Homo sapiens: one gene and its partners. The protein of the gene in region 4 purifies or fractionates together with the protein of the main gene of each other region. This does not show direct contact. Each region holds a gene or a part of one and is shown on either strand. Other genes may lie near its edges.

Evidence for each region.
Region 1: the proteins of P2RY2 (region 4) and PIGG purify together in Homo sapiens (affinity purification with mass spectrometry; one large-scale study listed by BioGRID and IntAct). This does not show direct contact.
Region 2: the proteins of P2RY2 (region 4) and SACM1L purify together in Homo sapiens (affinity purification with mass spectrometry; one large-scale study listed by BioGRID and IntAct). This does not show direct contact.
Region 3: the proteins of P2RY2 (region 4) and PTDSS2 purify together in Homo sapiens (affinity purification with mass spectrometry; one large-scale study listed by BioGRID and IntAct). This does not show direct contact.
Region 5: the proteins of P2RY2 (region 4) and CMTM6 purify together in Homo sapiens (affinity purification with mass spectrometry; one large-scale study listed by BioGRID and IntAct). This does not show direct contact.
Region 6: the proteins of P2RY2 (region 4) and THADA purify together in Homo sapiens (affinity purification with mass spectrometry; one large-scale study listed by BioGRID and IntAct). This does not show direct contact.
Region 7: the proteins of P2RY2 (region 4) and DERL2 purify together in Homo sapiens (affinity purification with mass spectrometry; one large-scale study listed by BioGRID and IntAct). This does not show direct contact.

Annotation. Positions count from the first base shown.
Region 1 is NC_000004.12:505,710-509,209, reverse strand, and holds part of PIGG (GPI ethanolamine phosphate transferase 2, catalytic subunit), read right to left. Parts: intron 3,493-3,500; coding exon 3,283-3,492; intron 1,806-3,282; coding exon 1,617-1,805; intron 382-1,616; coding exon 240-381; intron 1-239.
Region 2 is NC_000003.12:45,706,396-45,709,895, reverse strand, and holds part of SACM1L (phosphatidylinositol-3-phosphatase SAC1), read right to left. Parts: intron 3,117-3,500; coding exon 2,989-3,116; intron 399-2,988; coding exon 249-398; intron 1-248.
Region 3 is NC_000011.10:456,779-460,278, reverse strand, and holds part of PTDSS2 (phosphatidylserine synthase 2), read right to left. Parts: intron 93-3,500; coding exon 1-92. UniProt on the Homo sapiens protein: Catalyzes a base-exchange reaction in which the polar head group of phosphatidylethanolamine (PE) or phosphatidylcholine (PC) is replaced by L-serine. Catalyzes the conversion of phosphatatidylethanolamine and does not act on phosphatidylcholine.
Region 4 is NC_000011.10:73,221,281-73,224,780, reverse strand, and holds part of P2RY2 (P2Y purinoceptor 2), read right to left. Parts: intron 1-3,500. UniProt on the Homo sapiens protein: Receptor for ATP and UTP coupled to G-proteins that activate a phosphatidylinositol-calcium second messenger system. The affinity range is UTP = ATP > ATP-gamma-S >> 2-methylthio-ATP = ADP.
Region 5 is NC_000003.12:32,485,853-32,489,352, reverse strand, and holds part of CMTM6 (CKLF-like MARVEL transmembrane domain-containing protein 6), read left to right. Parts: intron 1-1,316; coding exon 1,317-1,415; intron 1,416-3,500. UniProt on the Homo sapiens protein: Master regulator of recycling and plasma membrane expression of PD-L1/CD274, an immune inhibitory ligand critical for immune tolerance to self and antitumor immunity.
Region 6 is NC_000002.12:43,233,195-43,236,038, forward strand, and holds part of THADA (tRNA (32-2'-O)-methyltransferase regulator THADA), read right to left. Parts: intron 1-2,844. UniProt on the Homo sapiens protein: Together with methyltransferase FTSJ1, methylates the 2'-O-ribose of nucleotides at position 32 of the anticodon loop of substrate tRNAs.
Region 7 is NC_000017.11:5,479,679-5,483,178, forward strand, and holds part of DERL2 (derlin-2), read right to left. Parts: intron 3,205-3,500; coding exon 3,131-3,204; intron 1,712-3,130; coding exon 1,618-1,711; intron 1,465-1,617; coding exon of another isoform or gene 1,423-1,464; intron 905-1,422; coding exon 709-904; intron 467-708; coding exon 376-466; intron 1-375.

The DNA of each region.
Region 1 (3,500 bases), on a different chromosome or scaffold from region 4:
ATCCAGGCAGCAACATTCATACAACAAAATTCTGACAAAGAATAACTGTATTTTAAGGATTCGGGAAGGAACGTAACTTCAGATCCCAAAAGCCTTTTGCCCAATTACTTTTCATGCTCACATTGCTTGGGGACTTCAACCTTATGGAGCTTCTAAAAAATAGGTTTTCAAAATTAAAACCAGACTATAGAAAACAAATGTAATACAATTTCCAACTGTTAACATTCCTAAATTCTCACCGGGTTTCCTTTCAAACGCAGAACTGATTAAAATCAGAGGTGTATTCACCTCCTCGGTGGAGGAGGCCCCGTGACTTCCTGTTTCAGACATGCCATGGTCACCACAAAGAACCAGCAAATTGGGTAAAGGCGTCTCTCTCTCCTTTAAGGCAAAGGAAAAACATTTCAACTGCGTTCAGACTGAAGAGAGCACATCATCTTAAGAAGACAATTTTCGGTTTTAGCTTTACTTTATAGAGTTGTAGCTCTTTCTCAATGAATTAGATTTTTTTTTCCTATGAGCTCATAGCCAGATCACAGGGTCACAGTCAAATAATGCCATAAATGAAGTTCACAGAATTGTACACAGCTCATGGAGCACAGCAGGCTGCATTTCTGCCCTCTGATGGCAGACGGTTTGTATCTGGTTTCTGTCTTTGCCACTGCCAAGCTGTGAGACTCTGGACGCATTCTACTCTGTGCCTTGGTCGCCTCATCTGTCAAATGGAATCTTTCACAGGACTCTGGTGAGAACACAACACACAGCAAAAGGCAAGAGCTCTGAGCCATGTGGGGGCACCCACCAGGCTTCTCTGCCCCTGGGGTTGCAGCCACACATCCTTTGCTGCTCCGGGACAAGCCAGGCAGGCTGTGCCTGACCCTCGCTGCTGGTCCTCCTGGAACACTCGTGCACAGACCACATGGTCTGCCCCTCCCTCCCTTCAAGTCTCTGCTCACCCTGCACACGTCTTCAGGGAAGGCTTCTCTCAACACGCTGTTGAAAGCCCCTCCTCCTGCCCTCTGAGTTTCTGCAGCACCCATCACCTCCTCACATACTTATTTACTCATCTTTCTCATCTCTCCTGGCTAGAGCGTGAGCTTCACGAGGGATTATCGACTGTTTCACTGATGCACCCAAATGCATGGACAAAAAGTGACATAGAACAGAAACAGAGACACAGAACAGACAGAGTGACACAGAACAGAGACAGTGGCACAGAGCAGAGAGAGTGACACAGAACAGAGAGTGACACAGAAGAGAGAGTGACACAGAACAGAGAGTGACACAGAACAGAAAGTGACACAGAACAGAGTGGCACAGAACAGAGAGAGTGATACAGAACAGAGAGAGTGGCACAAAAGGTCTTCAGGAGGTATTAGTTGAATGAATGCATACACGGGTAGGAGTGAGAGCTGCTGTTCTGCAGGGCTGCTGGAAGACGGAGTCAGTGCAGTGGACACTGAGACAGTGCTGCCCGTGTGGCATGCGGCCCCTGGCTAGCAGACTGATGGTGGACATTCACACAGGCACCCTGAATAACTCAGGCGGTTGCATTTATTCTAGGGAACATCCACGTGAAACCACATCAGCAGACAGTGAGCGACGGCGAGCCTCACCTTCGACTGCAGTGAGGTGTGGATCTTCATCAGCACGCTGTCCATCTCGCTCAGCTTCTGCCCAATCAGGGGGCTGTTGGGCCCTGAAATGTGGCCAATGTGGTCCAGCCCCAGGTAGTGGAGGATTAATATGTCCCAATCTCCTCTTTTTAATACTTTATCCAAATGCCTCGTGACATTATTATCCACCTTTGAAGGGGAAACACACGTATAAACAACTCACCTAATTTCCCTGGATCTTCACTCCCCGGGGAAAACGCAACAGTCATCTTAAAATCTAGGGGTTTATTCAGGTTACAGGATTTGGGGGAGTTGAAACACAACAAAATCTATGTCATTAAAAATAAATAAATAGGCTGGACACAGCAGCTCATGCCTTTCATCTCAACACTTGAGGAGGCTGAAGCGGGAAGACTGCTTGAGGCCAAGAGTTCAGGACCCACCTGGGCAACATAGCAAGACCCCACGTCTATAATAAATAAATGAACATTAGCATTGGATTAAACTTTTGCTAATATTGTTTTTATGTTTCTGGGCTATGGATCGAATATATTCTACAGATAATTTAAATGAGCAAGGGTTCTTCTGACAAAAATATTTTTCTGTGGGATCACTGCTGGGCTTAATGGGCATAACTGAAGGTGAGCAAATGGGCAAGTTAAATAGATCCCAAGTTGTCATGAGGTAACTAAGGGCAAAGGGCAGTTAATTAAAGACAGGACAGTACCCAGCGTTAAAGTAACCAGCAGGATGATGAAGCTGAGGGCATCTACATGTGTCCTACAAGAAGGCTGTTCTGAAAAAGACACAGCACTCAATGATCACATTGATTTCTGAAATAAACACATCACGGAGGAGAGATGAGCAGTTGATCAGCCCCCAATAGAGCTGTCAGCCTGGTGAGCCCTGACCCCTCAGCTAGCTCATCTCCCTCCCACTAAAAAAATCTCCTATGAAGAGAAGTGTTTCTCAGTGATGCCATATATAGTCAGGAAAACTCAGTCATTACTGAAAAGTAACTGTTGAAAAGCGCCCCACTTTGGAACAGGATAGGACTACAGATGCTCCATAAGGCCCAGCCATCTAGGAGGTGAAGCTGGCTAAACCCCAGGCCAGGCAGGTGTGCTGGTGTGCTCCTACCTCAGCCCCAGGTCTGCTTTCTAACATGCAGGTCTAATTTTTGTTGGAAAAGCTCCAGGAAAACCCCCTCAGGACCAGGCCCCACCCAGTCGGCCACCTGCCCTCAGGGCACGATGAGGCTCCGCTTGCAGCAGAACCAACAGGCTGTGGAGTCCTACAGCTCTGCCATGTGCAGAAGCTACCAGCCTGTTCTGCCCACCTGGGGAGTCCCCACTCACCCATCATATCTCGGCTCAGACAGTCCCTTGGCTGTGTCACCCTTCCTGATCCTCTCTGCCCCTCAATGGCACTCAGCTGTTCTAAGCTTTGGGTTCCATAAAACTCTGCTCACACCTGCTTCAGGTTTGTATTTCTGGGTTGTTAACTGATTATGTGAGTGAATAATTTTTACACCTGTCCATAGTACTCCCTATAAATTAATAAAACCAAATATAAAATGGTATCATCTCTCACTAAGTAATGGGATGCCAGGCTCTATCTAGTATGATATTCTAGTATGATATATTTTCTTATTTTAAAAACTGACCTCTGTGTAATCTGACACGAAAAATGAGGTTGTTCCATCATATTCCACAAAATGCTTTGGGAATAATTTAACCCAGGTTTCATCTCCATAAAAGACTATTCTTTTTCCAGCTGCTTTTGCTTGTCTTATCACACTGTCTTCCAGCAGTGCAGGAGAATTGAGGTTCCTGATGACGTCGACAAAGCCAGGAAGGCTCCCCGTCATCAATGCCTGCAGTC
Region 2 (3,500 bases), on a different chromosome or scaffold from region 4:
GTGTTTATACAAAGATTTCTGAATATCTACACCAGTGATTCTCAATTCTGGCTGTATATATACACAGATTCAAGGACTCACACACTGGGATTGTGATGTATATTTAAAACAGGGTATATTTTCAAAGCCTCATACATGATTCTAAGATAGCCAGGACTGAGAAAAATCAATATAAATTTTTATGCATGAAACAGAGACATGTCCCTTTTAAAAACCTAAAAATAAAAATAATTGAAGATCAAGCTTACCCTTTCCAAGAGACTCATTTCTTGGAATTCAGGACTAGTGTTGGATAGCCGCTGCAAAGTATGGGTCAAATCATATGTTGTTGAAAAGTAAAATCCATCCACATTCAAGACATGGTTTAGCATCGCTAGGAAGGTTTTATTATCTTGTAACTATAAACAAAGAAAAATCAGTATAGCTCATAATTGAAAAGGAATCTGCCAGCATGAGAAAAGAATACAAATTAAATCCTGTTAAGTCCAGTCTCATTAAAGACTACTGGCACAAGGACTGAGCCAGTGAGGGGGATGCTCGCCATTTCCCTGGGATGTAGGACAGTTCCTGACACACAGAAGATACTCAATAAACACTGTAGGGTACTATTAGGTAACTTGATTAGGTAGGACTCCTCCCCTTTGTATCCTTTACAAATTTTATTCTCAAAGGCAGAAGAGTAGTTTTAACAAAACATCACCTTCGGTTATGACCTACTGTGTGCCAGGTATTTTCCAAAGATTCCCTTTAATCTTCACAACAGCCCTGCTAAGTTAGCATAGCTATCTTCGACAAATAAAACACATAAATTTACGACGGGCCCAATAATGCAAACAGCAAATAACAAGATACTAACATCATCCACATTCTCAAGAAACGTTCCCTGGTTTGGGATGGACGAGAAGTAAAATGGAATTCTTTTTCTTTAAAACAAAGATTAAAAAGTCCAGTAAAAGCAATATTTATCTTTATTTTTGGGAAACCATTTTAACTAGCTTTCCCAATGAATACTAAGATTGACATTTGTTTTTATCCTTGTTTTAAAAAACAATTGTTAATGTTTGGTAACGTTTAATCATTACTAAATGATTAACTTGTTAATCTACATGTTACAAATCTACATATACAAAATTTTTTATTTGTGCTCAGACATGTTTTTAAAATTAGCTACACAGCTTGACAACAAAGAATAACAATCGAGAAGAAATTGTCTAAGTAAATATGACTGGTCTATTAAATAAATACAGCTGTTTTTATTTCTTTAAAATATGCCTAGTAGAGAATGAAGATATTGATATATATTTCTTGATATATATAATAAAAAAGAAATTCTAAAGTATAAAAAGCATATCCTGTAGTTTTACTCAGGTAGGCAGTGCTATAATTTTATTTTTTAAAATGTTTATCCTAAGTTATATGTTTTAGAATAATATATTTTCTTCTAGAAACATTCTTATAAATTGGGTGTAAAAATACAACTTAAAATTTTTAAATAGCAAACATGTAACTAAAATTACATTAAGAAAACAATCACTCTCAACAGGTATATATATCTCTAAACAATGTTGACTTTAAAAAGTAAGTTTCAAAGAATCAGAACAGGGCAATGCCATTCATGTAAGTTTCATACACACTCCGAGCAAAAACAGATCCTGTTTAAATATGAATACAGGCAGTCTTTACTTTGTAAAGTGGGAATGTAAAAATTACCATGTTATTTTCATCTTAATAATCTTAAGCTATCTTAACAGTCAATTGTAAAAACTATGACTGTTTCATGACCTTTAAAAATTTTTTTTGTCAAAACATTAAAAACTCTATTGTAAGTTATAGATATTAGTTATAGATATTAACTTATATAGTTACGTTGTAGATGTAACTTGTAAGTTATATATAGTAAATTATAAGCATAAATGAACAAATTGTAAAACTAATATTTAGCACACTATAATTTAAAACATTAGAAACACCGAGAATAAAAAATATTTTCTTTGTAAAAAAATTTATCAAGAGACTTGAACAGTGCTTGCCGCCTTCTTGTCATATAGATTAAGATACAGAATATTTCTTCTATCCCTGGTGAACTGTCATACACCTTCCTAAGTCTAAACCAACTTCTGACATTTTATCCTTTGCACTTTCAATGTTGGGAAATATCTCCAAGGTTTCCTTTAATGGGAAGTCTGTTGCAGGCATCACTTTCTCTGGGATACTGTCATCCCTTTCGTCACAGCCACTCCATCATTAATGTCGGTCAGTTCGCCTGCACCAGGACCTCTGGCTGCATACCTACTGTCCCTTGAATGGTGAATAGTGTCAGCATTCCCATGGTCAGCTACTTCTTCTATGCTCCATTTATGTTCAATTTCAATTTCTCTTCCAGAGTTGTTGCTTTTTGTTTTTTTGCACCTTCATCTTTGGTGGGTTAATTCTTCAGTTAATAAACTGGAGTAACTGAAATTTAAGCCATGCTGTTTGGGTACTGGTGTTAACTAAACTATGGTTACTGAAATCTGTGCATACAGGAATAGTGCAAAAGGAAAACTGCCTGAAAGAATATATACACATTTCATAAACACACACACACACTTACATTCACATGTGGTAAAAATAGAGAAAACCTCTCTGGGAAAGAAGGGAATGAGTTAAGAGGAGTAGAACTTCAAAGGTATTTATATTTTATTTCTTTACAAAGAGGATATGAAGTTAAATCTGGTGTTGAGTACCCGTGCATTTCTGTTTTCCCTTCTCTCCATATGAAATTGCATAATTTAAGAACTGAATCTTTAAAAAAAAAAAAACAAGAGCAACAAATGATTTAAAAAATATTTTTTATGCCTAGGTAGAAAAGTAGGTAGAGTGATCTTACTCTATAGGTTGTTAAAATAATTATAGCATTCTTTGTATTCCACAACACCCTCACCCTCCTCTCCCCAGCCCATGCTACTTCTTTGGGCGCTGCAATTAGTAACAATTTCCAGTTCTTACCTGAATATCAGTTAAGTGCAACATTGTCTTCTTATAAGAAAGGACATCAAAATCTGTTGCTTTCCAGACTACATGACTGAAAAATTCACCTACTTTTATCTTTTTGGTAATGACTATAAGATAATTACCTGCAAAAAGCAAGCCAAACACACATAATTATAAAAATAGTAACTCTAAAGGTAGAAATAGGAGTCCTTATTGTTTAACTTTAAAGGCTAGTAGAATGAGACTATATTGTGCCACTCAGATAAAAGGCCCATTTTTAAAGCAACCTTACAATTTATGAATAGAAAGGTCAGCATATTATTTAGAAAAATTCTTACTGAAAGGTCATGTTTTTCTCAAAAAAGATAAAAGCAAAAGCTTTTCATAACCAAAGGATTTGTCTTAGTAAATGGAAAGTAGAGACAGAAAATACTTCTCTTTCTCTCTTTCATCACCCCCAAGGGATACAGACCTCTGCTAATCATTTCCCAGCAGGCAGCTTAAAGCATCAGGACGTGAGATCTGAC
Region 3 (3,500 bases), about 73 Mb from region 4:
TGTAGGCCGTGTCCTGAGGTGTTTCCTCCAGCAGCGTCACATAGCCAAGCGTACAGGTGAGGATGAAGAGCACGGTTAAGGTGTGGGCTCGCCTGAAATCCAAAAACGCATAAGCATGGTGTCAGAGCTTGGGCAGCATTGCTAAATACTCACGTAACAGGCCCCAAATCCTCTCTACGTCAAGGAGAGGGCTTAAACTCCACTCTCCAACTCCCAACCAGCAACTGGCTGCGAGTCCCTAGCTGGGTAACTCCGAGATGACCCTGCGTCTGCTGGCCAGTCAGGGCTGAGACCAGCCCCCAGGAGGCTGGACAGGAAGAGCCCCGTGTTCCTGGGAAGCTGAAGGCCGCTGCTCAGAGGGCACATGCTGCCACTGGCGTCCAGGGCAGGTATCTGCTATTAAGAGCAACTGGACACGTAAAACACGCGCTTTTCACTGCGCAAGACAAGCCGAGACAACAACTCTTTGGGTTCATGAAATAACATCTGAGATTCAGTGCAGCAGCCCAAGACACCAAGAGCTGAGAAGGGGCCTGAGCAGAGGCCTGCAGAGTGACCGCTGCTAGCTGGAGTGAGCCACGAGCCGTGGGTCTGCCCGTCCTCTGGCCTGTCAGAGCCCAGACGTGGGAGGAGGAGGCAGGGCGCTCCCTTTGCAGTCTTGTCCTGTCCCATCGCTGGTGGAAAAGCCCACAACCAGCCTAGTATCAGAACTGGGGGCCACCAGACCCCAGCCACTGCCTGTGCCAGACACTCGCCTGAGACCCCCTCTGCATGACCATCTGCAAATGGAGGCAGAGACCTAGTTCCTACATCCATCGGAGTGTGTCCTCGGAGAGATGATGCACCCCTCTGTGCCTCAGTTTCCTCATGTCTAACCCAGGTCCTACATCCACCAGAGTGTGTCCTCACGTCTAACCCAGGTCCTACATCCACCGGAGTGTGTCCTCACGTCTAACCCAGGTCCGACATCCACCGGAGTGTGTCCTCACGTCTAACCCAGGTCCGACATCCACCGGAGTGTGTCCTCACGTCTAACCCAGGTCCGACATCCACCGGAGTGTGTCCTCACGTCTAACCCAGGTCCGACATCCACCGGAGTGTGTCCTCACGTCTAACCCAGGTCCGACATCCACCGGAGTGTGTCCTCACGTCTAACCCAGGTCCGACATCCACCGGAGTGTCCCCTCACGTCTAACCCAGGTCCTACATTCACCGGAGTGTGTCCTCACGTCTAACCCAGGTCCTACATCCACTGGAGTGTGTCCTTGGAGAGATGATGCACCCCTCCGTGCCTCAGTTTCCTCATATCTAAATGGGGAAGCTTCTGACTTCCAAGGACATCATGAAAATTAAGTGAACAATGCACTTAAAGCATGTTGCCCAGGACTTGCCTCCATGAAATGTAAACTATTTGTGCCCTAAAGAAATGAAAAGGCAAGTCACAAACTGGGAGAAAATATTCACAATACATATATCTGATAAAACTTTGTAGGCTGCACGCGTCTGTAGTCCCAACGCTTTGGGAGGCTGAGACAAGAGGATTGCTTGAGCCCAGGCGTTCAGGACCAGACTGGGTAACACAGTGAGACCCCATCTCTATAAAAAATTAGCCAGGCGTGGTGGCAGGCACCTGTAGTCCCAGCTACTCGGGAGGTGGCAGATTCGCTTAAGCCCAGGTTGAGGCTGCAGTGCGCTAGGATGATTGTGCCACTGCACTCTAGCCTGGGAGACAGAGCAAGATCTGTCTCAAAAAAAAAAAAAAAAAAAAAAATCAGGCCAGGCGCGGTGGCTCACGCCTATAATCCCAGCACTTTGGGAGGCCGAGGCGGGCGGATCACGAGGTCAGGAGATCGAGACCATCCTGGCTAACACGGTGAAACCCCATCTCTACTAAAAATACAAAAAATTAGCCGGGTGTGGTGGGTGGGCGCCTGTAGTCCCAGCTACTCGGGAGGCTGAGGCAGGAGAATGGCGTGAACCCGGGAGGCGGAGCCTGCAGTGAGCCGAGATCGCGCCACTGCACTCCAGCCTGGGCGACAGAGCGAGACTCAATCTCAAAAAAAAAAAAGAAAAAAAATACTTTTTATCCAGAATTTATAAAGAACTCATACAGCTCAATAAACAATTTAATGAAAAAATAGGCAAAAAATTGAACAGACACTTCACAAGGAAAACATACAAATGGCCAATAAGCACATGAACAAACGAGGAGCAGCACTGGTCACCGTGAAAGCAAATCCAAGCCAGGACACATCAGTACACATCCGCTGGAACGGCTGAAATTAAAAGCATCACAAATCCAAGCCACGACACAGCATCAGTGCACATCTGCTGGAACGGCTGAAATTAAGAACATCACAATGCAGAGTGCTGGTGAGGTCTCGGAGCAAGATGCTCACGCACTGCAGGTGGGACTGCAAAACGGCACAGAAAAGTGAGGCCTATGCTACGTCTGCTATCCAGCCAGCCACATACTCCCAAACGTGGGCCTGAGACAGATGAAAACACAGGTCCAGTCAAAGACACACTCCCAAACGTGGGCCTGAGACAGATGAAAACACAGGTCCAGTCAAAGACTTACATGCAGATGTTTCAGGTATAATAACCTAAAACGGGAAACAAACCAAAACTCTATCAGTGGAGGAAACACTGTGGTCCCTCCGACCAGCGGAGCATGGCTCAGCACTCAGAGGAATGTGCTGCTGGCAACGACCTCAACGTGGATAGATCTCAAAGACACGCCCCTTGGGAGGCCCAGGCAGGAGGACTGTTTTGGGCCAGGAGCTCAAGACCAGCCGGGGCAACATCATGAACATCGTGAGATCCCGTCTCAAAAGATAAAAAAAGAAAAAGAAAAACACGCTACAGACGCCAGGCACAAAAGAAACCTCCCATCTGCTGTCACCCACACACGACTCAAGGAAATGAGTTTGCATCCACGAAAAGCAGACTGGAGCGGAGACACGGGCCTTCCGGATGATGGAATGTTCTGGTGTGAGCGTGGTTGTGGCGGTGCATGGGCGTGTCACCTGCACGTGGGTGCTGCACTGAACGCACCCACACCTGGACTTAGCCGATTTCATGAAGAGCCAGGGTGGAGCTGCAGGACTGCAGGTGGAGGCTCCAGGCTGGAACTTTCTGTATTTTTTGTGCAGATGGGGTCTTGCCATGTGGGTCAGGTTGGATTTTTTTGTATTTTTTGTAGAGACGGGGTCTTGCCATGTTTTCCAGGCTGGTCTCAAACTCATGAACTCAAGGGATCTGCCCACCTTGGCCTCCCAAAGTGTTGGGATTACAGGCATGAAAGTGAATTCTTCTGCCATATTTTACAATACTAGGCATTTAAGACAACCAGAGGTAAATAAAAGTTTCATTGTGACTATCAACCACCTTTTTCTTTAGATACATTTGCATTTGAGTCCTAAGCCATGAGGAAACCGCAGGGAACCTCAGCCTTCCTGCTGAGCTCCACACCGTGGGGCCCTTCAGTACTGAGAGAC
Region 4 (3,500 bases):
GCTTCGCAGGAATTATGGGAAGGGGATACAGGAAGGTCACAACCAGAAAAACCACAGATCAGGTCTCCCACACTGAAGGCCATCCTCAGGGGGAAGGCAGTCCAGGGATTCCCCAGCAGAAGCCAGATAGCCACCATACTCTTTCACTCGCTCACCCTTCACAAAGGTTGCCACATCTATGCCCACTGCTGGGCAGGGCACCTGGGGACTCTGAGGTAGGTCAGATCTCAAGGAATTCACTGTCAACGTCAGGGGAGGCACACTCAGAAACAGGCGATGATAACACAGGGTGATCAGGCCTGGAGGAAGCCAAGGAGGCCCCTAACAGGATTGGAGGGGTGATGAGGGAAGGCTTCCTGGAGGAGAGAGCGCCTGACCTGCATTTTGGAAGACGAGGAGTCAGGTGGTTGGAGAGAGAAGAGGAGCAGAGTGAGGATGAACAAGAGATGACATGACACGTTTGAGGAACTGCTCATCATCCTGGTGGCTTGAGGGGAGTGGAGAGGGCAAGGCTAGAGTGCACAGGCTGAGGAGCTTAGAAGTCACGCTGGCTCCTCCCCAATGTCCTTCAAGGGGCTGAAAGCCAGCAGGCCCCCTGCCTTGCCTGACATGCTTCTGCACCGGGAGCACCAGGGCCGGTCTGAGGAAATGGCTAAGGGGTAACCTCAGATGCTATCAGCCGGTGCTGTTGTGGTGTTAGGCACCCCCTTCAGGAGGCCCTTGGGCTCTCTACCCCCTCCCAGATGTTCTCTCCCTCTTTGGGACCCCCCTAGGATCCTGGCTGTGGAGGCCACTCACCAAGGCTGAGCTCAGAGCAGCATCAGAGTGGGTAAGTCTCAGATCAACCAGGCTTACAGATCAGAAAGCCAAGACCTCTAAAGAGGAAGGGCCTTACTCAAGGTCTAGTGTTCCAATTATTGTCAGTGTGGGTTTGACCACCTCACCCCCAACATAGAGCAGGACCCCAAACCACCCATCTCACCTGGAACCCAGCATAGCCCAGAACAGGGCTACAGAGACATGCTACTAAATTAAACAGGCTCAGAACCACAACGTCCTGGACACCACCCCAACCTATCACAGCCAAATGCCTCCAGCTTCAAGAGGCAAGAACCGTGAGTTCAGGCTCTAACTTGGAGCCACCTGTGCTGTGCAGTCTTGGTGAAGTCAGCCCCCCTTCTCAGAGCCTCGGGTTCTTCAGTGGTCAGATGGGGAGAATCACTGCTGCATGGGACAGCTCATGAGGAATAAGACAAGGGGGCAGGTGGGTGCACCTTGGCGCTAGCAAATCATGAACTGTCCTAATGTGGAGGCTGTGTCTGCCTGTCACAACAGGGAGACACTGAAATTCAGGAGCCCATGACACTGCTTGGTAGGGAGGCCCTCCCAGGTGTTCCCCAGCAGAGGGACAGAGGTCATGGTCAGAGCAGTCAGGCAAGGTCCCTGGAAGGGGAACTGTGATAAGATTTGAGGAGGAGCAGGAAGGGTCCAGCTTGGGAGGAAAGAAGGTGGATGGAGAATCCAAGGTGGAAAGGGGGATGAAAGCATCAACCAGGAACCACATGAGCCTCTGATTCTGAGATGGCCCCTCCAGGTACCTCCAGGATTCTGAGTTCCCTGGTTCTCGCAGTCTAATTCCAAGAGGCTCTGGTTCCGGGTGTGAAGGCTGTGTTTCTTCAATTCTATTACTCGTTGCTCCTGATAGCCTTTGGTTTTGAGATTCTCAGAGCCACAGGGGTCTGGATTCAGAGTAATGAAATCTTAAATCACATTCCCAGGAACCACAAAGTCCCAGCAAACACTTGCCAATGCTCTGGTGCACCTGGCCTCAGATGGACCTTGTGAACTCAGACTCAGATTGCACTCTGCTGGGCCCTTGAGGAGTACCCAGTCAGGCTGAGGAAAAAGACACAGACATGGACCAAATCCACTTGGGTGAATAAACCATAACCAAGGCAAGCCCAGGGGTTATGGAGCACACAGCAACTCCTACCTGGCCTGGGGGAGGTGGTCAGGGAGTGCTTCTGCAGAGGAGGGGTCATCTGAGCTGGAAACTGGTAGATGATTAGGAGTTTGTCAGGTGGGCAAAGAGGGAGGAGGGCTCTGAAGGCAGGAGAGGCATGAGCAAAGACTTGGTGGATGAAAGTGTGACCTGCTGGAAAAAGGCTGGGAGGTCTTATACGGCTACTGTGGAGGGTGAGGTGGCATGGAATGTGTGGGAGCCTGAGGAATTCACTTGAAAAGGCTCAAATGCCAGGCTGAAAAGCTTGGCCTCTATTCTAAGGACACTGAGGAGCCATGGAAGGCTTAAGAGGGGAAGGACATGGTCAGAGTCAACCTTTACAAAGATGGTGCCACATGGAAGGTAGATGGGACAGGGAGTCTGGAGGGAGGGAGACCAAGGAGGAGACGACACATACGGTGGTGCCATGAGAGGAGCAGGTCCCTTGGCCCTGGATTTCCTGCAACAGCCCAGCCATGGCAAGAGTCCCCCTCCTACAAGCCAGGGCTGGGTGGCTGGGCACTCACCAGGAAGCCAGGTCGACACCCAGAGGCTCTCCTCAGACCTGGGGAGGGAGAGGCCACATAAAGCCCCAGAAGTCTGAGGGAGGTCCCTTTCCCTCACTCCAGCACCCAGGCCTCTCATTCAGGAGCTACAATGACAGTGACAAGGTACCAGGGCAGAGGGTCAAGGAGTTGTTCCACGGGGCCCAGGCTGCTCACCCTCCTACCAGAAACTCCCGCTACTCATCTTGGACCAGGAAAGACTCAGGCCTAGGAGATGGGGTGATGGGGTGGAGGAACTCCTCTGCTCCAGAACCAACTATGGCACTCCGTGGAGCAAAGCCTCCCCTTCTACTCCATGCCTACTCCCGCCTGGCCACTCATTTCCCAAAGACCCACTGGCAGCTGCTCTGAGCCCAACCTGTGGTGGCTGATGGGGACAGAGAGAGAAAGCAGGTATGGCCTAGCCTAGTCCTGCAACTGGCCGCTGGATGAGTACAGAGGTCAGAGTGGCCCACACAGCCAGCCTCCTCCTATCAGGGCCCAGTAATAAGGGAAGGCCAGGCCTCAGGACCCAAGGACAACCAAGAGGAGGTGTGGCCCAGAGGGTATAGCAAGCAGGCCTACAGAAAGCAGTTTGGGGAGAGGCGGTTTGGGTGGAAGGCATGAGGGGCAACCCCCACTCCCCTCACCAGATCAACAAGGCATCTCTGGTCCCGTGGGCAGGTCTGGGCAGGCGTTACCTTATCAGCAGTTGGGTAATCTGGCCACAAGAAAGCCCCAAACACAGGTTCCCAGGGCAGAATTCAAACTCCCCTCAGCCTGGAAGCCAGAGGACCAGGCCTAACCCTAACAGGGCTCTGTCTCAGATGGGGAGGGCTAAGCTGGCAGGTGGACTGGAGCCCCAGGTTTCACCTCAGCTTGGTGACCCTGGGCAGGATACAATCCATGCCTCTATTTCCTGATCTGCAAAATGGAGATACAATTCCTCCCTC
Region 5 (3,500 bases), on a different chromosome or scaffold from region 4:
TTTATATAAATGTTAAGTGAATGATTGACAATTTAGGAATTCTGTGTTAAATAGTTTTATTGATTTTTTTTTTTTTTTTTTTTGAGATGGAGTCTCGCTCTGTCGCCCAGGCTGGAATGCAGTGGTGTGACCTTGGCTCACTGCAACCTCTGCCTCCTGGGTTCAAGTGATTCTCTTGCCTCAGCCTCCAGAATAGCTGGGACTACAGGCACCCACCACCACGCCCAGCTAATTTTTTTTGTATTTTTAGTAGAGACAGGGTTTCACCATGTTGGTCAGGCTGGTCTCGAACTCCTGACCTCGTGATCTGCCCGTCTCGGCCTCCCAAAGTGCTGAGATTACAGGCGTGAGCCACCGTGCCTGGCCAGTTTTATTGATATTAGGTTTAGTGGAGTTTGCAGTTCAGAAAACTCAAAAAGTATCAGACTTAAAACCCTTTGGAGTGGCTATCATTTTACCAAGTTTCCCTTTCTGAATCAAGTATATATGTCATTACTGTTTTCAGTTGGCATATGAGAGCCTTGTGAGGTAATGCCTGAGAGAGCACTTGGAAACCCATGAAACATCTCATGATTGTAAGCTGCATTATGATAAGATATGGAAGCTTTTATGTAGTAGATAAACTCATCATATAAGCTCACTGTAGATTACCCACTTGGAACAGTTGAAGGCAATGTGTTATTCCAGAAAGCTTCAGTGTCTAAAAAACACACTATTGGCATACTTCTATTTAATAACGGGTGGTTTTTAAAATTCTTTCTTTTAGAAAGTGCTTTCAAAGCATTGGAGTGCTCTCAGAGATGTCATCCTACCATAAAATACTTTGAAAGGAAAGAAAAATGCTTTTTTGCTGGAAGTAAGATGGAATTGTAATAAATGCTTTGGCTTAGATAATTTTAATATGTCCCAGAGAAAAAGAGGACACACACAAACACTTGCACGAGATACACACGAGATCTTTTCCGGGACTGTTTTTTTTTTTTTTTCTTTTTTTGGACTGGATAATAAAAAATGTCCCAGTTAGCTGGGACTACAGGCTCATGCCACCTCTCCTGGCATAGGGGATTGTTGTTATTAAAAGTTTATCTTGTAATGTGTTCTCTCAATAATCCCAGCCCAGTGTGGATACTGTTTTTTTACAGGGTATTTATTGAATGCCAGGCTTATTGAAAAGTTAGAAGTTTGGGTATGTAAGTTTGGGTTGTATCAAGAAAAACAAGTAAGTAGCCAGAGCTTTTTAAAGTTAAAAATGAAAAAGTTCATTTCCATGAATCTAACTGTATTGTATTCCTTTTGTGTTTTGTATGTATGCATAGGATTTTTATATTACTTTGGGAACAGGATGTGTGTTTTTGTTGGCATCCATCATTTTTGTTTCCACACATGACAGGACTTCAGCTGAGATTGCTGCAATTGTAAGTACCTTGTATTTTTAACATTGCTTATTTTTGTTTCCTTAGAAATATGGAATTTGGAGAGTACTTGACAAGTTATACAGCATGTTAGAGTTGTTTTTCTTATAACTTACTTTTTAGTGTAATTTTGAATAGAAGACCTACAAGCAAATCAATATGATAGCCTTTAAAACCTAGAGCCTATAGAATTTGACTGAATTTTGTTTAAAAAAAATCCACTTACTCCACATACCGTGTGTTATTGCTAATGGAAGTGGTAAAATTGACTTTATTATTTTATATTTCTCCACTTTCAGTTCAATAAATGCACACCTACATGCCAGGTGTTTTCTAGGTATGGAGAATATATGGGAGAAATGATTCAGAGACTCAGTCTAGAAAAGGAGACGGAAAAGTAAAATTGTAATGGAGTTTGTTAAATGAACCAATAGCAGTTGTTCTGAGACTGGGTGCCGTGGCTCAGGCTTGTAATCCCAGCACTTTGGGAGGCCAAGGTGAGAGAATCACTTGAAGCCAGGAGTTCAAGACCAGCCTGGGCAAGCAACATAGTGAGACCTCATCTCTATAAGAAGAAAAAAAAAAATAATAGAAAAAAAAGTTGGTCTAGACAGCAGTTTTCAGTGGGTTATACATATCCTTAAAGTTTCATCAGACTTTTCAAGGAGTATGAGGCAGAGATAGTGTTGAGGAAATTAATTTCCAGCTTTTAAACCTCCATATGTAATCTTTTTTAAAACTTGTATGTCTGAGAATTTATCTCTGGTGAAGGAGTCTCACCGGCACTTTTCCACCTTCCCATTCACAGTCGCCACCTACCTTGCCCCTCAAAAAGAAAAAAAACTTGCTTGTCCTGAATCTTGCTGGATTAGTTCCTTCTTGCCCTGCTATATAGAAATACCTGACACTGGGTAACTTATAAAGAAAAGAGGTTTAATTGCCTCATGGTTCTGACAGCTCTATAGGAAGCATAGCAAGGGAGGCCTCAGGAAATTTACAGTCATGGCAGAAGGCGAGGCGGAAGCAGGCACATCTTACATGGCCAGAGCAGGAGGAATAGAGAGAGTGGGGAGGTGCTACACACTTTTAAACAAGCAGATCTTGCAGTAACTCACTATTACAAGAACAGCGCCAGAGGGGGAGTCTGCCCCATGATCCTGTCACTTCCAGCTAGGCTCCACCCCCAACATTGGGGATTATAATTTGACATGAGAATTGGGTGGGGACACAAACCCAAGCCATATCACTTATTATGGTGGATTACCCTGAATTGTAAAACAAAAAAACCCTTGAGTACAACAAAGAGACAGTTGAAAATAAAGATCCAATTTTTCTCTGAAATTCTTGGGGCCAGAATTTTTTTCTTTTGGATTCAGAATATTCTGGATTTTAGAAAGGTAGTGCTGTACATATGCTATATTACACAACACCACTTGAGGGCCTGCGACAGTACCCTGTAATCTAACATTGGTATATCTGAAGTAAAACATATGAATATTTATAGTAAAAGGGATAAGAAAAGACTAAGTAGTCTTACTCCATGTAAATAGGCTTACTTTGTGTCAATTTTGAGCCAAGTGAATCATGAAAACCTTGAGTTAATGTAGTTCTTTGGGTTTCGGAATTGTAAATTAAGGATCATGGCCTTGGACTGGTAGCAGTGCTGTGAACTTGAATGACTAGCAACTGGACAACAAATCATCTTGCAAGTCAGCTGGTTTCCAATTAATACTTTGTTTTTAACAAAATTGAAGTTAGGCCGGGCGTGGTGGGTGGTGGGTCAACGCCTGTAATCCCAGCACTTTGGGAGGCCAAGGCGGGCGGATCAGGAGGTCAGAAGTTTGAGACCAGCTTGGCCAATATAGTGAAAGCTTGTCTCTACTAAAAATACAAAACTTAGCCGGGCATGGTGGCAGGCGCCTGTAGTCCCAGCTACTCGAGAGGCTGAGGCAGGAAAATCGCTTGAACCGAGGAGGCGGAGGTTGCAGTGAGCCAAGATTGTGCCACTGCACTCCAGTGTAAGTGACAGAGTGAGACTCCATCTCAAAAACCAAAAACAAAATTGAAGTTGTAATTAATAGAGTTGTC
Region 6 (2,844 bases), on a different chromosome or scaffold from region 4:
AGGAAGGCTTCCCTGTCCAGTGTCTCCTCTGCACATCTGCCTGGATTTGACTGGTTTGCCCTTTCCTTGGAAAGCAGATCTCTTGGGCACAAGACACATCCTAGAGCAGGGCATCGGCAAGCTTTTCCTTAAAGGGCCAGAGAGTCAATATTTTAGACTTTGCAAGCCTATACCTCCTCACCTCGGCTGAAAGCAGCCATGGACAATCTGTAAACAAATGGTTGTGGCTGTGTTCCAATAAAACTTTATTTATGGACACTGAAATTTGAATTTAATGTGTCACAAAATATTATTTTTTCCCAACCAATTAAAAATGTAAAAACCATTGATAGCTCATGGGCTGTAAAAAGCAGGTGGTAGGCTGCATTTGGCTCCTATTTTGCTGCCCTCTGTCTCGGAGTTTTTTGTTTTTGGACCCTTGTTTTCCTGGGTGCTTGGAGGAAGGGCACTGAAAGAATAGAAGGGTGCAGAAAGAGGAAGCAGGGGGCCTTGGGGAAACCATTGCTTATTTCAACATTTGGCCTTAGACAATCCTAAATATGGGTTTGGAGGGAGGCTCAGGGGTGTTGTCACTTCCCCTAACAACTCTGCCCCTCCCATCCCAAACCTGGAGGGTGTCTGAAACACGGGACTGAAAGCCCACTGCACAATGGACCTCTGTAGGCCCATCTTGCACCAACTGACATTGAAAGGCCTGTCTTTCAATGATGCATTTCTATTGAGCCCTGATCACTCCCAAATCCACATCTCTAACTTGAGCACACAGACTTACCCTGACCATCTGGCCCCCGAAAGACTTACTCGGCACACAGGCAGACGACCGAGAATCTGCAACAGCAGGCTTAGTTCCCGTGGGTGTTGAACCAGGCTTACTGGGATGGCCCCACTGAGGGCCTAGTGAGTGCCAGGCCCTGATCAAATGCTGTCTCCCCAGTCCTTCTAGCATCCTATGGGTTGGGTATTATGTAACCCACTTGCACACATCAAGAAATTACAGTTGGCAACAAGTTTCATGGTGCATGCAAAGCGCAGATTTGGAGACCCAGCATCAACAATCCAGAGGTTTTGATGGTGGGGTCAGCAGGGGTAGTGACCCTGCAGTAGGGCCAGGACTATTCAGAGGTCACACAGCAGCACCTAGTTGCATGTAAGCAGGTGAAAGTACTGATCTCACCATCTTGAGAGCTCCAGATAAGTCCCCCAGGACACTTGCCCTTTAGTGTCCCCGTTCCCCATGCTGCTTGCTCTGCAGCCTAGAACCCAGATTTAAACCAGGAAACAGAAAAGGGGAGGGGGTGAAGGTGCATTTTGGCTGTGGGTCTGAGCCATGTGTTGACTGGGCCTCTACCTACAATACAATCTCCATTTTTACCTCTACCTAACTCCTTTCTGCAGTTCTCAATTGGCTGAGAATCTGTATAGAGAAGGGATAATTAAGTGGCCTTTTTCTTTCTTTTTTCCCTTCAACTTTTATTGATTGATTGAGACAGAGTCTGTTGCCCAGGCTGGAGTACAGTGGCGTGATCTTGGCTCACTGCAACCTCCGCCTCCTGGGTTCAAGCAATTCTCCTGCCTTAGCCCCCAAGTAGCTGGGACTATAGGCATGTGCCACCACACCCAGATAATTTTGTTTTTGCCCAGCTAATTTTTGTATTTTTTGTAGAGACTGGGTTTCACCATGTTGGCCCGGCTGGTCTCAAACTCCTGACCTCAAGTGATCTACCCACCTCAGCCTTCCAAAGTGCTGGGATTACAGGTATGAGCCGCTGCACCCAGTGGGTTTATCACTCTTTTTTTTTTTCTCAGACTGAGTCTTGCTGTATTGCCCAGGCTTGTGTGCAGTGGCGTGATCTCAGCTCACTGCAACCTCCACCTCCCGGGTTCAAGCGATTCTCCTGCCTCGGCCTCCTGAGTAACTGGGATTACAGGCTCCTGCCACCATGGCTGGCTAATTTTTGTATTTTTAGTAGAGATGGGGTTTCACCATGTTGGCCAGGCTAGTCTTGAACTCCTGACCTCAAGTGATTCACCCGCCTCAGCCTTCCAATGCGCTGGGATTACAGGCATGAACCACTGTGCCCAGCTTATCACTTTTTTGTTGTTGTTGTTTTGTCTTGAGACAGAGTTTCGCTCTTGTTGCCCAGGCTGGAGTGCAGTGGCACCATCTCGGCTCACCGCGACCTCCGCTTCCCAGGTTTAAGAGATTCTCCTGCCTCAGCCTCCCAAGTAGCTGGGATTACAGGCATGCGCCACCACACCCGGCTAATTTTGTATTTTTAGTAGAGACGGGGTTTCTCCATGTTAGTCAGGCTGATCTCGAACTCCTGACCTCAAGTGATCTGCCCCCTCGGCTTCCCAAAGTGCTGGGATTACACCCATGAGCCACTGTACCTGGCCTCCCACCACTTTTTTTATGGTCTCCTTAAGGCAAGGACTGAAAGCCCAACAGGGAAGAAAAAAATTTCATCATCCATCAGCAAAATCAGTATCTGCAGCTCAAGTGACATTCCTGTTGAGTCCATAAAGAACCTATGGGGGTGACCAGAGATGCCACCAAGGAAGGCTAGGCTGCTGCACTAGCCCCACCTGACAGGACAGGTAGCCTCTATCCTGCACCATTTTTTTTTTTTGAGACAGAGTCTCGCTCTGTCGCCCAGGCTGGAGTGCAGTGGCGGGATCTCGGCTCACTGCAAGCTCCGTCTCCCGGGTTCATGCCATTCTCCTGCCTCAGCCTCCCGAGTAGCTGGGATTACAGGCACCCGCCACCACGCCCGGCTAAATTTTTTTTGAATTTTTAATAGAGACGGGGTTTCACCGTGTTAGCCATGATGGTCTCGATCTCCT
Region 7 (3,500 bases), on a different chromosome or scaffold from region 4:
AGGCCACAAAGTCCACCATCAGAAACTTTCATCAGTTTTGCCCATTTTGCTACCTTACTTCACTAAACGTGGACAGCAGCTTTCATAAAACCAGCAGGCTCCTACCAGAATAGAAGTTCTAGTGGTCATCTCTAACAATTACCAGGTTACTCCCAAGATATCTTGAGCCTGTTGACGTTGGTCTTGCCACAACCCTGGCACTGTCTGCTCCTACCCAGTCCAAGTGCTCTTCAACTGTAGCCAGAATGCTCAATCTGCAAATGGTTACTGACCTGAGCTATGTGTACTAGGAGCTAGGGGAGCCAAAGAAAACACAGATCATGCCCCTGTCCTGGTTTGCCTGTAAGAGTATGTAACCTGGTGTTAAATACTCACAAAATAGATGGTGTTTTCAGAATTCTTATTCCACCAGGTTGATTGGGAAATACATCTTCCAAGAAAAAATATATGTGTCCAACTGCAATACCTAGAGTCAAGCAGAAATAAAGGATGAGGGAGAGAATTAAAATTTAGATTGCAGGTAGACCTACCAACACAAATTGCCTATATTTAGGATGAATGTCAACATAATTATTAAAAATTAATGAACTAATATTGTGGTATTTTACAATAGGTAATACGTGAAGGCCAAACAGAATAAACATGAAAAATAGTAACAAAATACTTTTACAGGTAAAATAATTTAAAAAATAGTGAGAAGAGCCTTACCCAAAAGGTCCACAATGATTGAGTTCCCCAACAACAAGGAAAATCCCATGAGCACCCAGGGCAGAAAGGGGGCCTGGAAGTTGAGAAGGCCGAAGAAGTTCATGCGGACATAGGGGTTCCTTCGGCTCCACACATAGACGAGCATTATTGTAAAGGCCTGGCCCAAGAAAACTAAGCTCACAAACAGACCAAAAAGCTAGCAGATGGCATTAAGGAAAATATCAACATTAAAAGTTTAATAGGAAAGACTGAGCAGGAGAACTAAAGATTGTGTTCTAACAGAAGTTTGAATTGGAAAAGTCAAGTTGTTACATCTTTAGAATAGAAGGAGAAACACCCAGAAAATAATTACCCAGAGCAATCAGGCAAAAATCTGCTTAGGCTAAATTATCGAGATTTACAGCTACTTCAAACAAATACTCTGCTTTCGTGAAGTTCTTGCCTCTTTGGAAAATGTGTTAATTCTTCAGTCAATAATTATATTAAAGCTTGCTCACGATTAGCACCTTTACAGAGATGAATAAAGCTAGCTGGAACAAAACCATCTTGTCAGACCGTACCATATCTAAGTCTATTGTATAGATGAAAATTCTTTTTCTGAAAAAATAATTTATTGGTTTTGGTAGCCACCAAGTAAATGTCTTACCAACTTAGTTTAAAAGTGAAGTACGCCAAGCAGTAATGATATAACTGAGTTGCTTAACAGTAACCCACCTGGGTTAAAAGTTCCTTTGACTTGCTCATCCTGTCCGACTGCTAGGTTTGGAAACTTGTCACAGAAAATGTGCTGTAAAATAAATGATAGTGCCCTGAAGCTAAGATCTAGAGAACTGTGGGAGACAGATGACAAGCTTTAGGAAGAGCCAGGGTGTTCTTCAACATTTTCCCGTGTTGTTTGTTGAAGGATACGGTCATTAAGAATCCACCAAAAAGGAACATAAATACAAAGTCTGCTGTCCGACCTCGGAAAGAGCCTTCTTCTAGCATTCGACAGTAACGATATCTTAAGTTCCAAGTTAAGAAAATATTAAGCACACGAATATGAACAAAGTAAAAATTTAATGTTATCTTGTAAGTACACTTGGATTCCATATTATTTGTAATTAGTCAAGTCTTCATTTGTATAAGAATGTTTGAGTGGTAATGTGATTACTTTTTTACCAAGCATTTGAGAAAAGGTCAAGACCAGCATCATTTTTTACAAACTGTCCCTGGCTGGGAACTAATCCAGATGACACACAGACATGCTTTCAGTCCCCTATTCTTTTTTTTTTTTCTTTTGAGACAGAGTCTCGCTCTGTCACCTAGGATGGAGTGCAATGGTGCCATATCGGCTCACTGCAAGCTCCGCCTCTCAGATTCAAGCGATTCTCCTGCCTCATTCTCCTGAGTAGCTGGGATTACAGTTGTGTGCCACCATGCCAGGCTATTTTTTGTATTTTTAGTAGAGAGCAGGTTTCACCATGTTGGCCAGGCTGGTCTCAAACTCCTGACCTCGTGATCCACTGCCTTGGCCTCCCCAAGTGCTGGGATTACAGGTGTGAGCCACCACACCCGGCCCTCCAGTCCCCTATTAAACCTTTAAAAATTTGTATTGTCTTTCCTGTGCTCAGCCACACCTTAATATGCACCATCTTTGCTTTCCCACATCCTAACTTGGAAGAAATCCGCAGCAAGAAGCCTTGTGTGCTCAACTACTTTTCCAGCCTGGCAGGTTGAGCACCTCAGTCAATAAAGATGAATTACGATGAGAAAAAACTTTAATGGAAACTTATCAGAATGATATCCTACATAGGATATAAAATGGATTCCTGCCATCCTCAGGAAGGAATGCAGCTGCAGATGAGTTGAACTGTAACTCCCTCTTAATACAGAGGGCAGGGGTGGAAGAGGAATGCCCTGCTCTGTGGCCCCAATTACCATTGGATCAGAGCTGGGGTTTTCCTTTCAACAAACCGGAACTTGACAAGCCCAGCAGACACAACCACTGTCTTTCAGCCAGTAGTTCCAGCAACCAGGACCCAAGGAGATCTCAGGTTCCCACTCCTCATGAACCCATTCCAAAACTTATGCCCAAATTCTGCTGAATTACCATTGCATTCAGGTTGTTTTACGGCTTCGAACCTGTTGGTTACTGTGGAGGTATGCCTCAGTTAAATCAATTCTCCCCTCCCTTGATCAGATTTGTAAGTAACAAAAGAGCAGAAGTGCTATCTTTTTATGGTTAAAACCTCCCATTTGAACAAAGTGACCTACAGACATTTTCAAAACATTACTACCTAAGCAACTACTTTATGTACCACTGACCCAGAAATCATAGCTAAGATGGTACCAAAAACAAGTAACAGGATGAAAAGTTTCAACTTAATTTTTTACTTCCTAAGAAAAAGTTTTGATGCTGACCCCATTTAATAAAGGATACAGAAAAATCATGTTAAATAAAAAATTGAATCCAACTGGCCCAAAAAATAAGAAGTTGGTGATTAATCTCCATATCTGTTAAAAAAAAATCAAGAGAAAGATGTATTAAGTAAAATAAATTACCAGGAAACAGTTCCATATTAATACAAAAGAAACATCCTATGACTGCGGTGGTTGAGAAGCCTTGGACAGAGTGATACTCTGTTCTGAAACAAAAACGGGGGCATATAATCTGATGTTAGATTTTTTTTGCTGCTTTTAGTTCAAAGTCTGAAAGACATCATTGGGACTGTGACATTTATAATAATAGGAAAGAAAATTTTAAATTGTGATCGTCGTATGGAGAAAGTTTGCTGGAAAGACTAGGTTAA